Homo sapiens: one gene and its partner. The protein of the gene in region 1 interacts with the protein of each later gene in a pairwise test. Each region holds a gene or a part of one and is shown in the gene's direction. Other genes may lie near its edges.

Region 1 (5,209 bases):
ATCTTATTTCTAAAACTAGGATGTACTAGGTTTGAATCATCTAGCAGAAGTCTATCATCTCTCAATTTTTTTCCTTAGGTGTTCAAAGGGGAAAATTACTGATACAGAGACGATGGTCGGAATCAGATTTGAAAATGAAAGTGTAAGTAAAAATCCTAGTTACATTTGATACCTGTTTACTTATGTAACTTATGTTTTGGTGCCCATGAAAAGCAAGAAAAAGTATATATATATAACTTTGATTGTTAATTCTGTTGTTTTTCTTTAAAAAAGCAGCAAGCCAGCCAGTCACAGTGGCTCATGCCTGTAATCCCAGAACTTTAGGAGGCCAAGGCAGAAGGATCACTTGAGCCCAGGAGTTTGAGACCAGCCTGGGCAACATAGTGAGACTGTCTCCACAAAAAAATTTAAAAGTTAGCCAGGCATGGTGGCATGTCTGTAGTCCCAGCTACTTGGGAAGCTAAGGTGGGAGGATTGCTTGAGCCCAGGAGGTCAAGGCTGCAGTGAGCTGTGATCACACCATAGCACTCCAGCCTAGGTGACAGAATGAGACTCTGTCTCAAAAAAAAAAAAAAAAAAAAAGGCAGGAAGCATTGAAAATACACAACTTTTTTCTTCCTTCTGAGTTGTTGGAGTTTTGCCTCTGTACAGTAGCCACCTTTGTTTATGAGAGACCAATCTGCCTCCATACCAACATGTTACCTACATTTTATGGCTTCTTAGGGAGAATTTCTTAAAAATCATACATCTCTGGAAAGAGATGATATGTTCTGGGTTGCTGGCAGAATTCTATTTGTTTACTACAATTGTGGTTATATAGGTGTTCATTCAAATTAAGTGGTACATTAATGTTTTGTGCATTTTCTGTAATATCAAATGACTTTTTTCAAGGATAAACTAGAACCAAGTTGAGTTACTATAAAGATAGTAGGGATTTATTCTGAGTGATGGGATTGTGGGTCATATTTTTTGCTGTTTAAAACTTTCATAATATCTTTTAAACATACTAATTTTAATTGTGATAGGAGAACTGAAAATACTTTTCTTGCTACTTCCAGGGAAGGTGGTGAGTGTTCTGTTTGATGGTTCATAACTGAGGGTCCTGTGAGGCCTAGGTCTGGAGCTTTTTTTGCTCCCCCTTGCAGGGACAGACAGATAGGGTAAATCTACTCACTTGGGGGATTTGCTAATTCTCTTTTCTTTCACATTAGTGGCAGTTTTATATTTCATGTGTAATCTGTGTTTATATTTGCAAGTATCAAACATGTCAGTAGAATTTAGATAATTTTTTGATCAGAGGAGGGGATACCAACTGGAGCCTGACCTATCAGAAGAAGTGTCGGCCCGACTCCGCCTGGGCAGTGGAAGCAATGGCTTACTCAGGAGGAAAGTGTCAATAATTGAGACAAAGGAAAAGAATTGCTCAGGCAAAGAGAGGGACAGAAGAACGGACGATCTCCTTGAACTTACAGAGGTATTGTTCTTTGTATTGATCCTAAAAAGAGGCATGTCTTTAAATAACCTCAGTTATTCTAACTTGAATGTTTTGTTTTGAGGACTTTCTCCAGGCTAGGGGTGAATATATGAAAACATGTCAGGTCCATGGTCTGTTGATTCACTTTGACTACATTGATCTTTAGTGAGGCATGATCATTAGTGGCCTAAGGGATCAGATTGATATTCAGCAAATGGGGAGTCGACACAGTCATCTCATATCTTGGAATACAACAGATTCTTTGTAAATTCTAACCTTCAAATATGTTGAGTTATATAGTATGGGTTTGGCATTAAGAATAAGTTCATTGCATTTTTTTTTTGAAAGTTATTATAGTTTACTAAAATGCCCCCTTTGTTGATTATTGCATTTGAAAATAGTAAAAACTTACAGAACATAAAGAATGAAGGTAGTTAAAATTCTTATTTTAAAGATGTGCCCACATCTTGGCTTCCTCCACAATGTTGCCCTAGTAGGCAAATCTCTTGAATACTTACTGTTATATTGGGCATGTAGGTGGAGAGAGAGATCCATAAAATGGTGAAGCTGTGTGCAGTGGGAAGCAGCATATATTTAGAAGAAAATAATTTCTTTTTTTTGAGACAGAGTTTCGCTCTTGTTGCCCAGGCTGGAGTGCAATGGCGCGATCTTGGCTCACTGCAACCTCTGCATCCTGGGTTCAAGTGATTCTCCTGGCTCAGCCTCCCTAGTAGCTGGGATTACAGGCACCTGCCACCATGCCCAGCTAATTTTTGTATTTTTAGTAGAGACCGGGTTTCACCATGTTGGCTAGGCTGGTCTCGAACTCCTGACCTTAGATGATCTACCCACCTCGGCCTCCCAAAGTGCTGGGATTATAGGCGCAAGCCACTGCCCCCGGCCTAGAGGAAAATAATTTCTATTGGGTTTATAGATTTAGTTTTGTATCTTAAATAATGCATTTATCTGCATAATTCTTTAGTATGATGAAGCCATTTATTCCATAAGGAGTCAATTGCTAGACTGCTGGGTGGTTTCCAAGTTTCTGCCTGTTTGCTTATTCTCTTCATGTCAAAAAGGATGGTGTGACCCCTTAGATGTCCTAATCTTATTTTGATGTTTTATTTATTTATTTATTTTTGAGATAGAGTCTCGCTCTGTTGGCAGGCTGGAGTGCAGTGGCACAATCTCAGCTTACTGCAACCTCTGCCTCCCAGGTTCAAGTGATTCTTCTGCCTCAGCCTCCTGCGTAGCTGGGACTACAGGCGCGTGCCACCACGCCCAGCTAATTTTTGTATTTTTAGTAGAGATGGGGTTTCACCATGCTGGCCAGGCTGGTCTCGAACTCCTGACCTCATGATCCGCCCGTCTTGGCTTCCCAAAGTGCTGGGATTACAGGCGTGAGCCACCACACCCAGCCTTTTTTGATGTTTTAAAAGTTTAAAGGCGAGAATGGGCGTGGTGGCTCACGCCTGTAATCCCAGCACTTTGGGAAGCCAAGATGGGCGGATCATGAAGTCAGGAGTTCGAGACCAGCCTGGCCAGCATGGTGAAACCCCGTCTCTACCAAAAATACAAAAAAATAGCTGGCATGGTGGTGTGCACCTGTAATTCCAGCTAATCAGGAGACTGAGGCATGAAAATTGCTTGAACCTGGGAGGCAGAGGTTGCAGTGAACTGAGATCATGCAGCTGCATGCACTCCAGCCTGGGTGACAAAGTGAGAATCTGTCTCAAAAAAAAAAAAAAAAGAAGGGCCAGGCTGGTGGCTCACACCTGTAATCCCAGCACTTTGGGAGGCCGAGATGGGCAGATCACGAGGTCAGGAGATCGAGACCATCCTGGCTAACACAGTGAAACCCCGTCTCTACTAAAAATACAAAAAATTAGCCGGGCGTGGTGGCGGGCGCCTGTCATCCCAGCTACTCGGGAGGCTGAGGCAGGAGAATGGCGTGACCCCGGGAGGCGGAGCTTGCAGTAAGCCGAGATGGCGCCACTGCACTCCGGCCTGGGAGACTGAGCGAGACTCCGTCTCCAAAAAAAAAAAAAAACGTTTAAAGTGGAAATCAGGAGTTTACTATTATGAAGGGAGCAAAGTCCAGGAAATTAGATGCACCTGGGTTCAAATCTTCTTCTACCTTTTAATAATTATATGACTTTGAATATGTAAAATAAATTCTCTGGGTTTCAATTTTCTTCTCTATAAAATGATAATAATGTCTTCCTCACTAATATGGATCAATGATGTGCTTCAAGCATCTAACACCATGTTTGACTCATAGTGGTTAATACGTAGTAGTAGGAAAATTGAGACTATACTTTAGATGTAAATATTATTATTAAATTATTGTTTCCACAAGCTAATAAGTGAACCAGGATTTGTTGTAAGTATTACTTACAACAATTAAGTAAGGCTGCTTTGTAGTTATAAGTTAAAATATTTTCAGGGCTGGTGCAGTGGCTCATGCCTATAATCTCAGCACTTTGGGAGGCCAAGGCAGGTATTGCTTGAGCCCAGGAGTTTGCAACCAACTTGGGCAATATAATGAGGCCCCATCTCTATCACTAAAAATAAGAAAAAAATGTTTTCCTACTGTAGTTTAGTAGGTCTTTGATAGTATATTTTTCTCAAGAGTCAGGTGTTGCCGAGATGAAAAACTTTTTTCAGTCTCGGAGTTTTCAATAACTGATAATGAATGGTTCTATATTAAAATAGCAACTTCTGAACTTTCTAATTCAGGACATGGAAAAGGAAATCAGTAATGCCCTAGGCCATGGCCCACAGGATGAAATCCTAAGTAGTGCTTTCAAATTGCGAATTACTCGAGGAGATATTCAGACATTAAAGAACTATCACTGGCTCAATGATGAAGTAAGTTGTATTCCCTCCCCCTTTTGGCTATCATTAAGTTTATTTATTTATTATCTATAATCAAAGTGACTCCTACCCAGTTATAATGGGTTGGTAATGCAACTCTTAGTTATAATTAAAACAAAAACATTTTAAATCTTAAAAAGATGGTTAGTTCTGATTTTCTGCCTTTGATTAGCGATGTTTCCCTTTTCTGCGTCTGTATTTTATTGCATCCACCACTTCATTTACTGGTCTTCAATAAACCCTGGGTACAGCTGATAAACGGGAGGAAGCAGCAAGTGATACTGTATTTTAGGTGAATTCTTATAGTAGCTATTTTTTTGTTTTTGTTTTTTGGTTTTGTTTTTGAGACAGAGTTTTGCTCTTGTTGTCCAGGCTGGAGTGCAATGGCGCAATCTTGGCTCAGCGCAACCTCCACCTCCTGGGTTCAAGCAATTCTCCTACCTCAGCCTCCCAAGTAGCTGGGATTACAGGCATGCGCCACCATGCCCGGCTAATTTTGTATTTTTAGTAGAGACAGGGTTTCTCCATGTTGGTCAGGTTGGTCTCAAACTCTGGACCTCAGGTGATCCGCCCGCCTTGGCCTCCCAAAGTGCTGGGATTACAGGCGTGAGCCACCGTGCCTGGCCTGTTTTATTTTTTGAGTAATAAAGGGATATATTGATCACTATATACTATGTGTATTTTTCTTTGAGTGATAGCTGAAAAATTTTGCCTAACTTGTCATCTTGTATCCTTAATACATTTAGCAAAAGCTAACTCTTAAGTTCTTTGACAATTTTCTGGTGGGTTCTTCCCCGAACTGCTTAGCCCCTGCATGTTCTCTCTTTGAGGGAAGTCCCCTATGACTAGTTACTTATA
Region 2 (5,209 bases), on another chromosome or scaffold:
GTTGTACCTGAACCCCACTTGGGGCAGATTGCTTGTCCTTGGTCATCTCTGTACTGGAGCAGGGTGCTCAATTTAGACTGGTATTCTTCGGTTTGATCAGAAGTGTACTTCTCAGCTGGGTGCCGTGGCTCACTGTAATCCCAGCACTTTGGGAGACCAAGGCAGGAGGATGGCTTGAGGCCAAGAGTCCAAGACCAGCCTGGGCAACATAGTGAGACTTCATCTCTCTCTCTCTTTTTTAAGGCATTAATATCTTTAGCATCTCAAGGTTTTTCATTTTTCCTGCAAGGGAACAGATTCTCAAGGGAATTTGTTCAGTGATGGTAGATCACTCCAGCATCAAAGATCATTCTCTTGTTAGTAGACATGCTAGGTTGGGTCCTTTGGGATAATCTAGCTCATCCATTTTGTTGCTGAGAGTCATTATTTGAGCCAGGTTGGTTAATACAGCTTTTGAGATTTAGTCTTTATTCATTGTCTTTGTTATCATTTATTTACTATGTCTCATTCATCTGGCATTAGTTGGGACTCTAGGGATATAGAGATTCACAGCCCATATGGTCAGTGCTGAGCTAGAAGGGTGTGTTTAGTGCTGAGAGAGCAGAGGGAAGACGCTCTGTCTGCTTGGAGGTGTTAGGGAAGTCTTCTTCCAAAGAGGCGTTAGTATCTTTAGCATCTCAAGGTTTTTCATTTTCCTTGCAACTGTTTGACATTTTCCCCCAAAACGTAGAGAATTCTTTAAATTATACAAAATCTTTATCTCAGATAACACTGGGTTTACTAATTATCAGTGACAAATGGCTATGTAAAAATATTTTGTGTATAGAATGCTGTTTGTGAGAATTTGTTTAATCTGTCTCATTAAAATGGTTTCCTTTATTCATTTGCTGGGGATTGGGGGGTGGATAAGGGGTCTCACCCAGGGAATATAGTTAAGGTTTGTTTTTTGTTTTTTTAATTTCACTTCCAATTTAACTCATGGCATGAAGATTAGCTTTTTAAAAAAAACTTTGTAACTTAAAATGTTAAGTCTTGAAAATGACAGTTGAATTGGGAGTTGCTGATGAGTGGTGGTATAGATAATATTTTTGTTCTGCCGGGCGCGGTGGCTCATGCCTGTAATCCCAGCACTTTGGGAGGCCGAGGCGGGTGGATCACGAGGTCAGGAGATCGAGACTATCCTGGCTAACACGGTGAAACCCCTTCTCTACTAAAAAACAAAAAATCAGCCGGGCGTGGTGGCAAGTGCCTGTAGTCCCAGCTACTCGGGAGGCTGAGACAGGAGAATGGCATAAACCCGGGAGGCGGAGCTTGCGGTGAGCAGAGATCACGCCACTGCACTCCAGCCTGGGCGACAGAGCGAGACTCCGTCTCAAAAAACAAAAATAAAAAAAATTTTGTTCTAACCAAAAAATAAAGCCATATACATACATAAAATATTTGTACTTCTCACAAGCTTTGGATTAAGAAGAAATGTTAAGATTCAGCAAAAAGTAAAATTCTGCAAAAGCTTCAAAGTAATCAACTATTTTGATTACTTAGTGCAAGCCAATAAGAAGTCTTTTCAATTTATATGTAGAATTTTCCTAAGGTTCATCATCACCTCCATGCCTGTGACTCAAATTGCTGTATCAAGTACTAACAGAAAAAGCCTTCACTTGCCATTTGATTTGATCACCACTGTTTTGCTGAGGCTGGAGTTTGAAGTGATAGTAGATGAATAAATACAAGAAGAAATGCAGATAAACAAATTCTTCTATGGAGTCATTCACAGACAAAATAGAACCTAAGATTTCTAGTCAGCCTGTTTATGCAAAATCAGATATTTTTATTATTTAAAGTATTTTCTGTGTGGCTAAAAGTCAGTGTGTTCATTCAGGGTGCAAATGGCAAAAGAAAAGTGATGCACTAAAAAATTACAAAGAAAGCATAAGCTTGACAGAAGTGATTTATAATGGTATATATGGCTATTTTATTATTTGGAGGCACTGAGTTACTGGACTGGCTTGCACACACACTGTTGTTCCTGTTCAGATATTGCAGTCTCTCAGTAGTACCATATGATAATTTTTCTTATGATAGGCATTTAGCTATAGTTTTATTAAAAGGATTTATGGCATGAAACTTGTGTAGAGTGCAGTTTGTTTTATATTCTACTTTCAAAAGCAATTACCAGAAAGTATTCTTAATTTAAGTAAAGAGAGCTATTTAAATACTTACCAGGCTACTTAAATTTCTTTAGTGATCTAATAACTGATTGGCTTATGATCCCTTATAATTAAAGATCTATTTAATTAAAAAGTATTTTTAAATTAGCTATATAATCTAGATAATCTCTGTATCTTTTTAACTAATTCCCTATTCCAAAAGGTGTGACAGAATGATAGTATAGTTAAAAGACAGTTTTTGGAATCATTTTCCCATCATGTACTAAACACTGTTCATCACATCTAAATAATTAGTTACTTACTTATGCTTAATATCTGTTTTCCCTAACAGACCTGAAGCTCTCTGAGGATAGGGGCTTATGTCTCCCTTATTCAGTACTTAGCATAGGGTAGGCACTAGTGTCTGTTAAATGAATAAACTAGTGGAGAAAAAGCAATTTCTTAGCTATAAGTTTTATAGGTTACTAGAACTCTTAAGTGTTTATATATTCTTGGCTATTATAGTCAGCAACCTAGTTGGTATAGTATTGATAATTTTTATTATATTTTTTGCAGATTGCTAGTCATAGTGGCTATGTGCAGATTGACTGGAAGAGAGTTGAAAAAGATGTAAATAAAGCAAAAAGACAGATTAAGAAACGAGCGAACAAAGCAGCACCTGAAATCAACAATTTAATTGAAGAAGTAAGATGATATATAATTTTGACTTTTTTTTTTTTTTTCCTTTTTTTGGTTAATGGGTATCCCTTAGCAGAAAATGTGACCGGGGGGGATTACTGTCTTTTTTAAAAATGGTGTTTTTGGTTATATATCTAGAGTGTTAAGTAAAATTTGAGATCACACCACTACTTAAATCAGTCATTATTTTTTTTTTTTTGGTGGTTATCATAGATTCCCCTGCATATCTCTAGCTCACTTTGATCTTGTTGTAAAAACTAAGAACATTCTTTTCAACATATTTCCTCTGCCTTTATAAATGAACATGTACAGGTGTAGTAAAACTTAAAAGTACACATTTTTTTTCTTGAGGATAGTTTGAAAATATGTTTTTTTAATATGATTAATATATTTTATTAATGTTTTCAGGTGTAATTTGACCCTTTACTTTTGTACTGTTTAAAATGGAATTGAATACTTCCTTGCCTTTGTTTTTGTTTTATCCTTTTACCTCCCTCAACTTTTTAGTTTGAAAAAATTCAAACCAGTTAAAAAGTTGAAAGACAAATATAGTGAATATCTCAATACCCTTCATCTATTCACCAAATTGTTCATGATTTGCCGTGTTTACTTTATCTGTGTGTGGGTGACACACACAGATAATTTTTTTTCCAAAGTATTTAAGATGTCATAACTTTTCATCCCTAAATACTTCAGTATGTATCTTCTAAGAGTACAGATATTCTCTTATACAACTATGAATACGCCCCCCCCCCTTTTTTATTTTTTTACTGTGTGGGAACTGCCACTTCAGAAACTTTTTTTTTCTTTTTTGAGACGGGTTCTCGCCCTGTAGCCCAGGCTGGAGTGCAGTGGCGTAATCTTGGCTCACTGCAACCTTCGCCTCTCGGGTTCAAGCGATTCTCCTGCCCCAGCCTCCTGAGTAGCTGGAATTACAGGCACGCGCCACCTCTCCCAGCTAATTTTTTGTATCTTTAGTAGAGACAGGGTTTCACCATGTTGGCCAGGCTGGTCTCGAACTCCTGACCTCATGATCCACCCGCCTCAGTCTCCCGAAGTGCTGGGATTAGGGGCGTGAGCCACCAGGCCCGGCCAACTGTTTTTTTTTGTTTTTTTTTTTTGTTTTTTTTGAGACAGGTCTCATTCTGTCTCGCTGTGTTGCTTAGGCTGGAATGCAGTGGCATCATCATGGCTCACTACAGCCTTGACTCCCCTGGCTCAAATGGTCCTCCCACCTCAGCCTCCCAAGTAGCTGGGACTACAGGTGTGCATGATGCCTCGGCCTCCCAAAGTGCCAGGATCACAGGCGTGAGCCCCCATGCCTGGCCAAATGCCATTATTAATAAAAAAAAAATGTAACATGAGATAATAGTATTTCCTTTCTTTGTTAATTTTTTTTAGACAGGGTCTTGCTCTGTCACCCAGGCTGGAGTGCAATGGTGTGATCACAGCTCACTGCAGCCTCGAGCACCTGGGCTCAAGTGATCCTCCCACCTCAGCCTCTCAAGTAGCTGGGACTACAGGTGCATGCCCAGCTAATTTTTATATTTTTGTAGAGATGAGGTTTTGCCATGTTGCCAGGCTGGTCTCAAACTCCTGGGCTCAAGCAGCCTGCCTGCCTCAGCCTCCCAATGTGCTGGGCATTACAGGTTTGAGCCACCACACCCAGCCAGTATTTTCTAATATGCAGTTCATATTAATATTTTTCTACAAAATATCTTGTGTGGCTTTTTTTTTCCCAATTAAGAATTATATGCCAGGTACAGTAGTTCACTCCTGTAATCCCAGCACTTTGGGAGGCTGAGGCAGGAGGATCTCTTGAGCCTAGGAGTTTGAGATCAGCCTGGGTAAGAGAGAGAGACCTTGTCTCTACAGAAAATACAAAAATTAGAACGGTGGCATGCACCTATAGTCTCAGCTACTTGGGAGGCTGAGGTGGGAGGATTGCTTGAGGCTGTGAGACGTGATTGTGCCACTGCACTCCAGCCTGGCTGACAGAATGAGACCCTGTTCCCACTCACCCCCCCAAAAAAAATTATATATTGTTTTCGGTTATCATGTCTATGAAGTCTCATTTAGTCTTAAACAGTCCTTTCATCTGTTAATTTTATTCCCCCATCTTTCATGGCACTGACATTTTTGACACCTCTAGGCAGAATATCCCACAGTCTGGCTTTGTCTGATGGCTTCCTCATGATTTTATTCTGGTTAAACATTTTACCAAAGTAATTTGTTTTGGTTTTGATCCTGTACATTTTTTTTTCTGTTGGCTAAATGGACTATTAATAAATACCATTGTGCCTGCTGTGACAATTTATTAAATAATCTGTGTTAATAACTTGATGATGGGCCATTCATCTCTA

The links.
Region 2: the proteins of SENP2 (region 1) and FUNDC1 interact in binary tests that used the Homo sapiens proteins (3 or more experiments, as listed by UniProt).

The regions. Positions count from the first base shown.
Region 1 is NC_000003.12:185,613,267-185,618,475, forward strand, and holds part of SENP2 (sentrin-specific protease 2), read left to right. Parts: intron 1-78; coding exon 79-142; intron 143-1,297; coding exon 1,298-1,474; intron 1,475-4,213; coding exon 4,214-4,345; intron 4,346-5,209. UniProt on the Homo sapiens protein: Protease that catalyzes two essential functions in the SUMO pathway.
Region 2 is NC_000023.11:44,524,880-44,530,088, reverse strand, and holds part of FUNDC1 (FUN14 domain-containing protein 1), read left to right. Parts: intron 1-2,723; coding exon 2,724-2,852; intron 2,853-5,209. UniProt on the Homo sapiens protein: Integral mitochondrial outer-membrane protein that mediates the formation of mitochondria-associated endoplasmic reticulum membranes (MAMs).